Linked DNA regions of Homo sapiens. The protein of the gene in region 1 purifies or fractionates together with the protein of each later gene. This does not show direct contact. Each region holds a gene or a part of one and is shown in the gene's direction. Other genes may lie near its edges. The genes, in order: NPEPPS, TCEAL8 and TIMP2.

Evidence for each region.
Region 2: the proteins of NPEPPS (region 1) and TCEAL8 purify together in Homo sapiens (affinity purification with mass spectrometry; one large-scale study listed by BioGRID and IntAct). This does not show direct contact.
Region 3: the proteins of NPEPPS (region 1) and TIMP2 purify together in Homo sapiens (co-immunoprecipitation; one large-scale study listed by IntAct). This does not show direct contact.

Annotation. Positions count from the first base shown.
Region 1 is NC_000017.11:47,583,108-47,586,618, forward strand, and holds part of NPEPPS (puromycin-sensitive aminopeptidase), read left to right. Parts: intron 1-2,392; coding exon 2,393-2,593; intron 2,594-3,040; coding exon 3,041-3,137; intron 3,138-3,257; coding exon 3,258-3,291; intron 3,292-3,511. UniProt on the Homo sapiens protein: Aminopeptidase with broad substrate specificity for several peptides. Involved in proteolytic events essential for cell growth and viability. May act as regulator of neuropeptide activity.
Region 2 is NC_000023.11:103,253,046-103,256,864, reverse strand, and holds the start of TCEAL8 (transcription elongation factor A protein-like 8), read left to right. Parts: upstream 1-1,709; 5' UTR 1,710-1,787; intron 1,788-2,187; 5' UTR 2,188-2,260; intron 2,261-2,847; 5' UTR 2,848-2,885; coding exon 2,886-3,239; 3' UTR 3,240-3,819. UniProt on the Homo sapiens protein: May be involved in transcriptional regulation.
Region 3 is NC_000017.11:78,869,736-78,873,454, reverse strand, and holds part of TIMP2 (metalloproteinase inhibitor 2 precursor), read left to right. Parts: intron 1-2,448; coding exon 2,449-2,557; intron 2,558-3,719. UniProt on the Homo sapiens protein: Complexes with metalloproteinases (such as collagenases) and irreversibly inactivates them by binding to their catalytic zinc cofactor. Known to act on MMP-1, MMP-2, MMP-3, MMP-7, MMP-8, MMP-9, MMP-10, MMP-13, MMP-14, MMP-15, MMP-16 and MMP-19.

The DNA of each region.
Region 1 (3,511 bases):
AAAGTGCTGGGATTACAGGCATGAGCCACCATGCCCAGCCAAGACCTCTTTTTCTTGATAGCTTTATTTTTGGAGGATTTTCTCTTTGTCAAATTCCTCGTTAAATACATTTATAAGATTATCTACTTCTTTTAATTTAGAGAGGTAAATTGACAAGTTTAATAGATTTATAGTAACTAAAAGCAAAAGGTCTTGGGCTGGATATGGTGGCTTACACCTGTCATCCCAGCACTTTGGGAAGTCAAGGTAGGCAGATCGCTTGAGGTCAGGAGTTGAAGACCAGCCTGGCCAACATGGTGAAAACCTGTCCTTACTAAAAATACAAAAATTATCTGAGTGTGGTTGCACACACCTGTAGTCCCAGCTAGTTGGGAGGCCGAGGTGGGAGGATCACTTGAACCCAGGAAGCGGAGTTTGTAGTGAGCTGAGATCACACCACTGCACTCCAGCCTGGGTGACAGAGCCAGACCCTATCTCAGAAAAAAAAAAAAGAAAAAGGTCTTGACTTATTAAATGTCATAAGAAAGCCAGGTACAGTGACTCTTGCTTGTAATCTCAGTGCTTTGGGAGGCTAAGGCAGGAGGATTGCTTGAGGCCAGGAGTTTGACACCAGTCTGGGCAACATAGTGAGACCTCATTTCTACAAAAGATTTAAAACTTAAAAGTTAGCCAGGTATGGTGGCACGTGTCTGTAATCCTAACTACTTGGGAGGCTAATGTGGGAGGATCTCTCGAACTTAGGAGTTTGAGGCTACAGGGAGCCGTGATTGTGCCACTGTATTCCAGCCTGGGTGACAGAACAAGACCCCATCTCTTAAAAAAAAAAAAATAGGCCAGGCATGGTGGCTCATGCCTGTAATCCCAGCACTTCAGGAGGCTGAGGCAGGTGGATCATTTGAGGCCAGGAGTTCGAGACCAGCCTGGCCAACATGGTGAAACCCCATCTCTACTAAAAATACAAAAATTAGCCAGATATGGTGGCAGGCACCTGTAACCCCAGCTACTTGGGAGGCTGAGGCAGGAGAATTGCTTGAACCTGGGAGGTGGAGGCTGCAGTGAGTTGAGATCGCGCCACTCCACTCCAGCCTGGGTGACAGAGCAAGACTCCATCTCGGGGGAAAAAAAAAAAAAAGGTTGCAACAGAGCAAGACCCTGTCTCTTATGTTTTTAAAAAGTTAAAAAAATTCAAAAGATGTAGCTGCGTAATGAAGTATATTTAGGTCTCTGGCTGTTTGTATTCTTGGAATGTATTCTCTTCACCAGTGTTATTGATCTCATTCATGAACAGGGTAAGCATTCCCCACTTGAAGTGTGTTGTCTAGGACTGTCTTGTGTGGGGAACTTGGAAAAACCTGCTGCACCTGAAAATAACTCTTTTATGTATTTATTGGGGGAGAGCATCCCATAAATAGAATGTCATTCTCTTCTCACATATTCTTAGAAGAGGAGGCTAATATATTAAACGGAAATATTCATTCACACTTTAGTATGAGTGAATTTATCAGTGTGTTCTTGAATAAGTCTTCCTTGGAAGGAAGAATAGAGAGAGCTTGAGGAAACAGAGCCTGAATAGGAAAAAGAGGGAGAACACCAAAGGAAATTAGGGACTCCAAAGGTAAAGTTGAAATTTCTTCACAAATAAGCTTAGAGCCAACTTTGGTAGAGAATGCCCTCGATCTAGAAGTTTGTATCCTTTGAAATGGGAGATTCTACAATTATATTATATTTATTTATTTTTGAGAAGGAGTCTCGCTGTGTCGCCCAGGCTGGAGTGCAGTGGTGTGATCCCAGCTCACTGCAAGCTCCGCCTCCCTAGTTCACGACATTCTCCTGCCTCAGCCTCCCAAGTAGCTGGGATTACAGGCACCCCCCACCATGCCTGGCTAATGTTTTGTATTTTTAGTAGAGATGGGGTTTCACCATGTTAGCCAGGATGGTCTTGATCTCCTGACCTTGTGATTCGCCTGCCTAAGCCTCCCAAAGTGCTGGTATTACAGGCGTGAGCCACCGCGCCTAGCCCCTATTTTATTTTTATTAATAGTCATTTTCTCCTAAACTTATGTCAGTTGAAAAGTATGAAGCCCTTAACTTAAATCATCCCAATGCCTGGCTTATAATAAGTATTTGAGAAAAGTCCATTCCTCTTTTCTTTCACAGGTCCTTGGTAGTTTTAACACTTCAGCCTCCAGCTTCTTAGTATGAGTGTTTTATCAGACCACTTTCCTTCTTAAAGACAGCATAAAAGCACTGGATGAATTGGGGTAGAGAAATAAGCCATGCTAGAATAGAAAGGGGTAAAGAGATGCAATAAAGCCTACAGTTTTTGGCTGGTATTTGCTCTATGGTATTAATGTAAACCTATTTAAATTTTTCTTTTTTTTATTTCTTAAAGAATGTAATTGACCGGAAACCATACCCTGATGATGAAAATTTAGTGGAAGTGAAGTTTGCCCGCACACCTGTTATGTCTACATATCTGGTGGCATTTGTTGTGGGTGAATATGACTTTGTAGAAACAAGGTCAAAAGATGGTGTGTGTGTCCGTGTTTACACTCCTGTTGGCAAAGCAGAGCAAGGAAAATTTGCGTTAGAGGTAAATGTACTTGAAGAGGATTGTTCCAACAGTCCATAACTCCAGGTTGGGGAATTTACATTTCTGGTCAATTATTAGTACAGTTATTTATAATTTAATCTGAAAGTTGTGCTACTTGGTTTATTTTTAGTAGAATTTAGGAAATGCCAACCTTGGTGTTTCATTATTTTACAAAATAATAATTAAGAGAATATAAGAGTGGAATTTCTCTAGGGAATGGGTTGGAAAATATGTAGTTATATTTTTCATATCAAGTTATAAATGGATTAAAGTTTGGCCATTGTATTCAAAGTTTGGAGCTAAGGCAGTCTTCGGAGGGTAGGGCTCCTCGGGATTCATTTCTAGTAATTTAAGATACATTGGCTTGCAACAGGATTCCTTTGTGGGTTTCAATATGAATTATAATAACATATTTATTAGATGGTTATTTTGTTTATACTTTTATAGGTTGCTGCTAAAACCTTGCCTTTTTATAAGGACTACTTCAATGTTCCTTATCCTCTACCTAAAATTGATCTCATTGCTATTGCAGACTTTGCAGCTGGTAAAGTAAATTTCATTTTATTGCTGAATTGTAATAACTTTTTAAAATTTTGTGACTTTTGATGCAAGAGTATATATATATATATATATATCAATAAATGTTTATATTTATTTTGTGAAGGTGCCATGGAGAACTGGGGCCTTGTTACTTATAGGTATGTTAATGATGTGTTACCCTGCCTTATCTTTTCAAATCACTGATTTCAAAAGGGCTTCCCTCCTAATCACAGTTGAGTAGCTTCTGCTTTACGATATGGTGTAAATTTTTCTACCTTCCCCCACTTCCGTGCACATTTCAAGAATGCAGATGGACACCCCTCCCTTTGGTGCTACTGTCTGAGGGTGTAAGATTTTAAAGTGAGCATCTGGCGGTAG
Region 2 (3,819 bases), on another chromosome or scaffold:
TGATTGAACTGTATTCTGATTGCAGTGGTGGTTAAACAAATCTATACATTGGTTAAACTTCATAGAAGTGTACACACACACAAAGTCCATTTTGCTGCTGATGATTTTTCTTTTAAAAGATCAGAGTTGTTCCTCACTAAATGGTTACATTTAAAAGAGTGGAAACATTTGGTGATAGGCAATGATTAAATCTTTATAATTTGCTAGTTATATTTATATTAAAAGCTCTCTCTCAAACAATAGAACATTTATCCCTCAAGTGTGGAAGAAATTTGTCATGCTTCAACTATAAATCATTAAGTCCAAAAAATATTTATTTTTTCCAAACCTTCTTTTCTCTTCTCTGGTGGGTGTTCTTGTTGGCTAAGGCATCCTGCTGTGACCACCCTAGACAAAAGACCCCCTCTGTCTTCTTCTGACTCTCCAGCTGGCTCCATTGGCCAGAATGCCACTCCAGGCACCACCATCCTTCCAAGTACCAGTGGATTCTGAGTTGCAGGGATATCAGTTTCCTGTTTAATATTATTTTTTACAGCAATGTTGTTCTCTTTGCTTTCTAATCATAACAATTATGCATGTCAATAGTTCTTTTAATGGGACACAGTGGATGATACCAGACTATCTCAAGAGTGCCATGAATGAAAATGCCATGCAAAGAAGCCTCAAGCCTGATGGTGAGATACAGAGAATTCTCTTTTCTGAGTGTTTCATGAGTGTATGAGTTATTTCCCAACAACGAAATGTTTTCCAAGAAACATACTACTTTGAGTTCCAAAAGAATTTTACTCAGTGGAAAGCAGGCTTTTCTGTGGACTTATCTGATTAACAAGATACTGAATCCTATAGAGGAAATGGGGAGGAAGTCTGTCTGAAGCCTCCAAGTGAAACCTTAGTGGATGCCACCAGTGGTCATCAATGAAAAAGATCAGACATCCAACACTTGATAACTTGAGTTCTGCCAGAAATAGAAAGAGTAGTAGATTACCTATACAAAATTGCTAACAAGAGAAAACTAGGCCTCCTTCCACACATTAATTTGGGAGTCAATTTTTTAAGTGCTGTTTGGTAAGATTTTAAAAAATTCTAACACATCAATATGTTGTGAATATTGTCATTTCATTTCCAGCCATTAGAAAACTTTTCCAAAGTCTTACACATTGATATAACTAATTTGTCCTTCATATTAAGTGTTACATATTGCTTATGAGGCATCCGTTTTCTGATACCATTTTTAAAAGTATGCTGATTGCTGAAAACATAGAACACAACAGAAAACTATTCAAGAGGATTAGTCAAATCCTCCACTTTCAACCTTAGATTCTTTTCCAGCCCCCTCTTCCCGATCTACCACCTTTGCCCATTTCAATGCTGGATAGGATTCCAGGGGAAATGGTGGACTGTAGGGGTCTTGGAGGAGGGGAGGTGGGAGTATTGGGAGCAGAAGAAAGAGATGATTCCTCAAAGAAGGAGAAATGGTCGATTACCCCTAAAAGGCTGATCCTCCTGGTAATCTGAGAAAGGCGAATAAATACTCCAGGGCGAAGATAACAGTTTATTGTCTCCGATTGGCAAATACGAAAAAAGATTGACAGTATCAAGTGGAGGGAACGCAGCGGGCGGGCTGCAGTGTTAATGGGAGGGGTAACTGGGGACTCGAGCTCAGTGATGACGCGACTCTCACGTGACCAGGAGTCGACGTGTGCAGAAGTCCTTATAGTCCAGGGCCTGTTTCCCTGTAGCAGCTCCTTATTGCTGGAGAAGGAGAAAAGTGCCCAAGATCCTTTCAGGTTAGTATAAACGTGGGCGCTGACTTGGAGACCCTGGGGTCGAGGAGGCCGAGAGCAGAAAGCAAGCGGGGCCGGCACTGCTTTCCCCACTTCTGTTCCGCCAAACTCCCATTTTGTGCAGGAAATTTGGGGCTGTTTGGTGGGGGATGGCGGGTGGAGAGAGAGAAGGGTAGCTAATTAAGGGTCCTGAGAGAGAGACATAGAAACTGTTTGGAAGAAACTTGCTTTTCCTACTCCCTGCTTGCAGAAAAACGGTGGGCACGGAGGAGGGCGGGGTTGCCATAAAAGGAGGGCGAGGATGAGGACATGGGAAACTTTACACCAACATGGCCTAGAATCATGAAAGGGACCCGTGATCCAGGTACTAGTCTGCTCACCAAACACTCCCATCTGTCTGCAGGATATTTGGTTTTTTGGGCGCGACACAAATCGAGGTGAGGGAAGAGAGAGGAAAATCCCCTGAATCCCTGCAGGTCAGTTTTTGTAAAGGTGCAATTGCTTCAGGTCTCTTCGGGTGGGGGTGGAAGTGTGAGTGACACCAAAGCACATCCTGGGGTCGCAGCAGCCCCTCCCCATCCGGATTAAGTGCCAGAGGCCGGTGCCGAGCCTGCAGCGGAAATGAGGCGGGGGAGGAGGAGGCTTAAGAGACGCTGAAGGGGGAGGGGAGGCCAGAGACTGGACCAGCCGTCTCAGGTGAGAGGCTGGAGGTTGAGAGGGCCTGGGAAAGTCTGAAGGGCGGGAGTGTTGGAGACCAGAGGCGGGAGAAGGGTTAATTGCTTCCGTACTGCTCCCATTTCAGTATTAGGAGAGGCTTGTAGCAGGGCCTGCTGGGAAGATGGTGGGCAGGAGCAGGAGGAGAAAGATGGAGCTGGAACGAAAGGGGGCGCGAAGGGAGGTGGAGTCAGGGGAGTTCTGAGCCTGAGGATCCAGCTTTCTCTAGTTGGAAAACTTTTGACAATTAGGGTACTGAGTCAAAAAAGGCCAGTCGCTATGGGACCCCATACTCTGACTGCTGGTCTGTTTGCCTGGAATCTAGTAGTTTTGTTTCCTTGTTTTCTAGGATTAATTTATTCAAAAAGGAAATAAAAAATACTCAATATGCAAAAGTCTTGTGAAGAAAATGAGGGAAAACCACAGAACATGCCAAAGGCCGAGGAAGATCGCCCTTTGGAGGATGTACCACAGGAGGCAGAAGGAAATCCTCAACCTTCCGAAGAAGGCGTAAGCCAGGAAGCAGAAGGAAACCCCAGAGGAGGGCCGAATCAGCCTGGCCAGGGATTTAAAGAGGACACACCCGTTAGGCATTTGGACCCTGAAGAAATGATAAGAGGAGTAGATGAGCTTGAAAGGCTTAGGGAAGAGATAAGAAGAGTAAGAAACAAGTTTGTGATGATGCATTGGAAGCAAAGACATTCACGCAGCCGTCCTTATCCTGTGTGCTTTAGGCCTTGAATTCATTTTTGCCTAATATTAAAATCTGGCCCCAGCTTTCTTTCTGTTAGCATTTTCTGATGTATCTTTGACCTCCATTTTACTTTTAATCATCTGATGAAATTTTGTTTTAGGTAATTTCCTTGGTACCAGCATCTCATTGGATTTTGGATTTTGACCCATTTTCCAGGTCTATTTTTCAATTGGAAACTTTCACACATTTGCATGGGAATATGTTCATTCCATGTTGTAAAGTAAAACATAACAGGTTATGGCAAAGCAGCATATTTAATATCAGCTCACATATGTAGGATAAAATTCCAAACTTTGTGTGTGTGCGTGTGTGTATACATACATCCATATAACATATATCACAAACTTAACCAAGCTTATTTCTGTGTGGTGTGAAATTTTATTTGTTTTCTTCTTTTTGTTCTTTTTGCTTATATGTACTTTTTAATGAACACGTGTCTCACACACAAAAAGAATTAAGGATTTTTTTTACAAGTAAGAGTCAAATAATTTGCAACCAGCTTATGAGGGCAATGGGGGCACCTAAACTCTTGATGAAAGAACTTTAAAAAGAAATGTAAACCTCAAA
Region 3 (3,719 bases), about 31 Mb from region 1:
GTAGCGCCCACCTGTGGTCCCAGCTATTCGGGAGGCTGAGGTGGGAGAATCGCTTAAGCCCAGGAGGCAGAGGTTGCAGTGAGACATCTCACCACTGTATTCCAGCCTGGGTGACAGAGTGAGAGCTTGTATTAAAAAAAAAAAAAAAAAATATGTGGCAGGGAGGGCAGGGAGGGCAGGGCCTGGCCTGGGGCAGGAGAGGTGATGCTATTGTCATTGACAGTAACTAACATGGTCTGTAAGAGAGACGAAAATTCATGTCGCAGGTGGAGGGACAGCCGTGTGATATGGTGGTAGTTGTAGTCATCGATATTTAATTTTGTCATTAAAAATAAAAAGTAAACCAGGCACAGTGTCTCATGAGTATAGTCCCAGGTGAGTGGATCACCTGAAGTCAGGAGTTCAAGACCAGCCTGGCCAACATGGAGAAACCCCATGTATCTACTAAAAATACAAAAATTAGCTGGGCGTGGTGGCGAGTGCCTGTGATCCCAGCTACTTGGGAGGCTGAGGCAGGAGAACACTTAAACCTGGGAGGCAGAGGTTGCCGTGAGCTGAGATTGCACCACTGCATTCCAGCCTGTGCGACAAGAGCGAAACTCCATCTCAAAAAAAGAAAAAAAAAAAAGTAGCTGAAAATCAATGTTATCAGAAGGTCAGTGGAATGCTTCATCATCACATGTATGTCAGTTTAAGGGGATGACCTAGTCTCTCAGTGCCTGAGTCTCTTTCTTTACGAAGCAGGAAAGAGGATCTGCTCTTACGACCTCATAAAGGGGTCGTGAAAAGGCCAGTGCCAGTGCCCAGGAAATGCTTTTAGCCTTTTGGCAAATGATGTCATTTAGTACAGCATCAACATAACCTTTCCTGGTACAAGCTGGAGTGTCACTCTCAAGCCATTTGTCATGACATCAGGCATGCTTCCATTCCATTTGGGTTTGCTTATTGAAACTCTTCGGGGGGAAAAAAACAGCCTCCCTGAGTGCTGAGAAAATGCCATTCTTCACCTGGGCAGCAGGTGCGTTCCTGAAAGGCTGTGAGTAAATCACATGTTGAGAAAGCAAACTCTTCTGGCCCATGGAGTTATGTCCTAATTCCTGAGGTGCCTCTCTGCTCTCATTGCCATCAAGTAGACAATATTTGACCAAAATTCCTGGAAATATAGGTTGGGTGGAGTGACTTATGCCTGTAATCCCAGAACTTTGGGAGGCCGAGGCAGGAGGATTGCTTGAGCTCAGGAGTTTGAGACCAGCCTGGGTAATAGAGCGAGACCTCGTCTCTGCTAATTAAAAAAAAAAAAAAGCCAAGCATGGTGGCATGCGCCTATAGTCCCAGCTACTCGGGAGGCTGAGGTGGGAGGATCACTTGAGCCTGGGAAGTTGAGGTTGCAGCCCCAGCCTGAGCAACAGAGTGAGACCCTATCTCAAAAAAATAAAAAATTCCTGGAAATATGCAAAAGTCATGGTCCTTCATGGTGGTCCAGAGTCACGTGGAGGTACAAAAGCCCCTCCCCATAGATTCAGAAATGACCTCTTTGGGGTGGGGGGTGAGGGAACAGAGGTGTTGTCTGAGGATGTCATGCTCCAGATGACAGTCTTTTTTTTTTTTTTTGAGATGGAGTCTTGCTGTCTCCCAGGCTGGAGCGCAGTGGCACGATCATGGCTCACTGCAAGCTCCGCCTCCTGGGTTCACGCCATTCTCCTGCCTCAGCCTCCCGAGTAGCTGGGACTACAGGCGCCCGCCACCACGCCCAGCTAAATTTCTGTATTTTTAGTAGAGACAGGGTTTCACCATGTTAGCCAGGATGGTGTCGATCTTCTGACCTCGTGATCTGCCTGCCTCGGCCTCCCAAAGTGCTGGGATTACTGGTGTGAGCCACTTCGCCCGGCACAGATGAGTCTTGTGCTCACCTGCTGTGATCTGCCACACTAAAAGTTGAGTGACTCCAAAGAATCACTTTGCTATAAGAAGTCTTTTTCTTTTCTTTTTTTTTTTTTTTTTTTTTGACGGAGTCTTACTCTGTCATACAGGTAGGAGTACAGTGGCGCCATCTCAGCTCACTGCAACCTCCACCTCGCAGGTTCAAGCGATTCTCCTGCCTCAGCCTCCCACATAGCTGGGATTACAGGCGCTTGCCACCATGCTCAGCTAATTTTTGTATTTTTAGTAGAAACAGGGTTTTGCTACGTTGGCCAGGCTGGTCTCAAACTCCTGACCTCAAGCGACCTGCCCACCTCAGCCTCCCAAAGTGCTGGGACTACAGCCATGAGCCCTGAGCCCAGCTGGAACGGTCTTTTCCTAACCCATGTATTTGCACTTCCTGGTCCTCTTGGGTGCTGGCTGTACCCCAGCTACAGGTTGTGCCGCCCAGGGTGTTCTGGATGGGAACGGAATTCACCAACTGTGTGGCCTCCCTCTGCTTACATGTCCTCCTCCTTGTCTTTCCAGATGTTCAAAGGGCCTGAGAAGGATATAGAGTTTATCTACACGGCCCCCTCCTCGGCAGTGTGTGGGGTCTCGCTGGACGTTGGAGGAAAGAAGGAATATCTCATTGCAGGTGTGTATGAGTGGGGCCATCAGCCGGAGGCTGGCACAGAAGTGGGGCTGTTCCTAGACGCGGTCCAGGGCTCGTTTCCCAGGCTCGGGGGGTGGGGAGGCGGAGTAGCTGAGGAACAGTGAGGCAGGGTACGGAGCCCTCTCGGCCACTTCCCGTCAGAGAATGCTAGTGAATGTTCACTACCTGCCAATTTCCTGGGAAATTTGAGATTGGTGGACAAAAAAAAGGGAGCATTTTTGCCTTTTGTTCCTAAAAGGGAGGCGAGTGCGGGATGCTGGAGACATGCAGGGCAGAGAAACCCTTTCTGCCGTCGGGAGGGCCAAAAGCTCGCGTAACATCTGTGGATACTATGCACGAGACCTGCTTGACTTATTCATTCATCTGTCTCCTTTTTTTATTGTGGTAAAATAATACGTAACAAAATGTAGCCATGTTAATTAACCATTTTCTTTCTTTCTTTCTTTCTTTCTTTCTTTTTTTTTGAGACAGAGTGTCGCTCTGTCGCCCAGGCTGGAGTGCAGTGGTGCGATCTTGGCTTACTGCAACCTCCACCTCCTGGGTTCAAGCGATTCTCCTGCCTCAGCCTCCCGAGTAGTTGGGATTACAGGCACACGCCACCACGCCCAGCTAATTTTTGTATTTTTAGTAGAGATGGGGTTCTACCGTGTTGGTCAGGCTGGTCTCGAACTCCTGACCTCAGGTGATCCACCCACCTCGGCCTCCCAAAGTGGCAGGATTACAGGCGCGAGCCACCGCGCCCGGCCAACCATTTTCAAGTGTACACTTCAGTGGCATTAGATACATTCGCTATTGTGCAACCATCACCACCATCTGTCTCCACATCTTCCCAAACCAAAACTCCGTCCCCGTTAAACACTAACTCCCCCTTCTCTCTTCCTCAGCCTTGGCCCACCTCCATTTTACTTTCTGTCTCTGTGGATTTGACTACTCCAGGGGCCTCACATGGGTGGAACCCTGCAGTGTTTGTCCTCTCTGTCTGGCTTATTTCAGTAGCATCATGTTTTCAAGGTTCGTTCACGTTACAGCATACATCAGAATTTCCTTACTCTTTTTTTTGTTTTTGAGACAGAGTCTCGCTCTATTTCCCAGGCTGGGGTGCAATGGCACTATCTCGGCTCACTGCAACCTCCGCTTCCCAGGT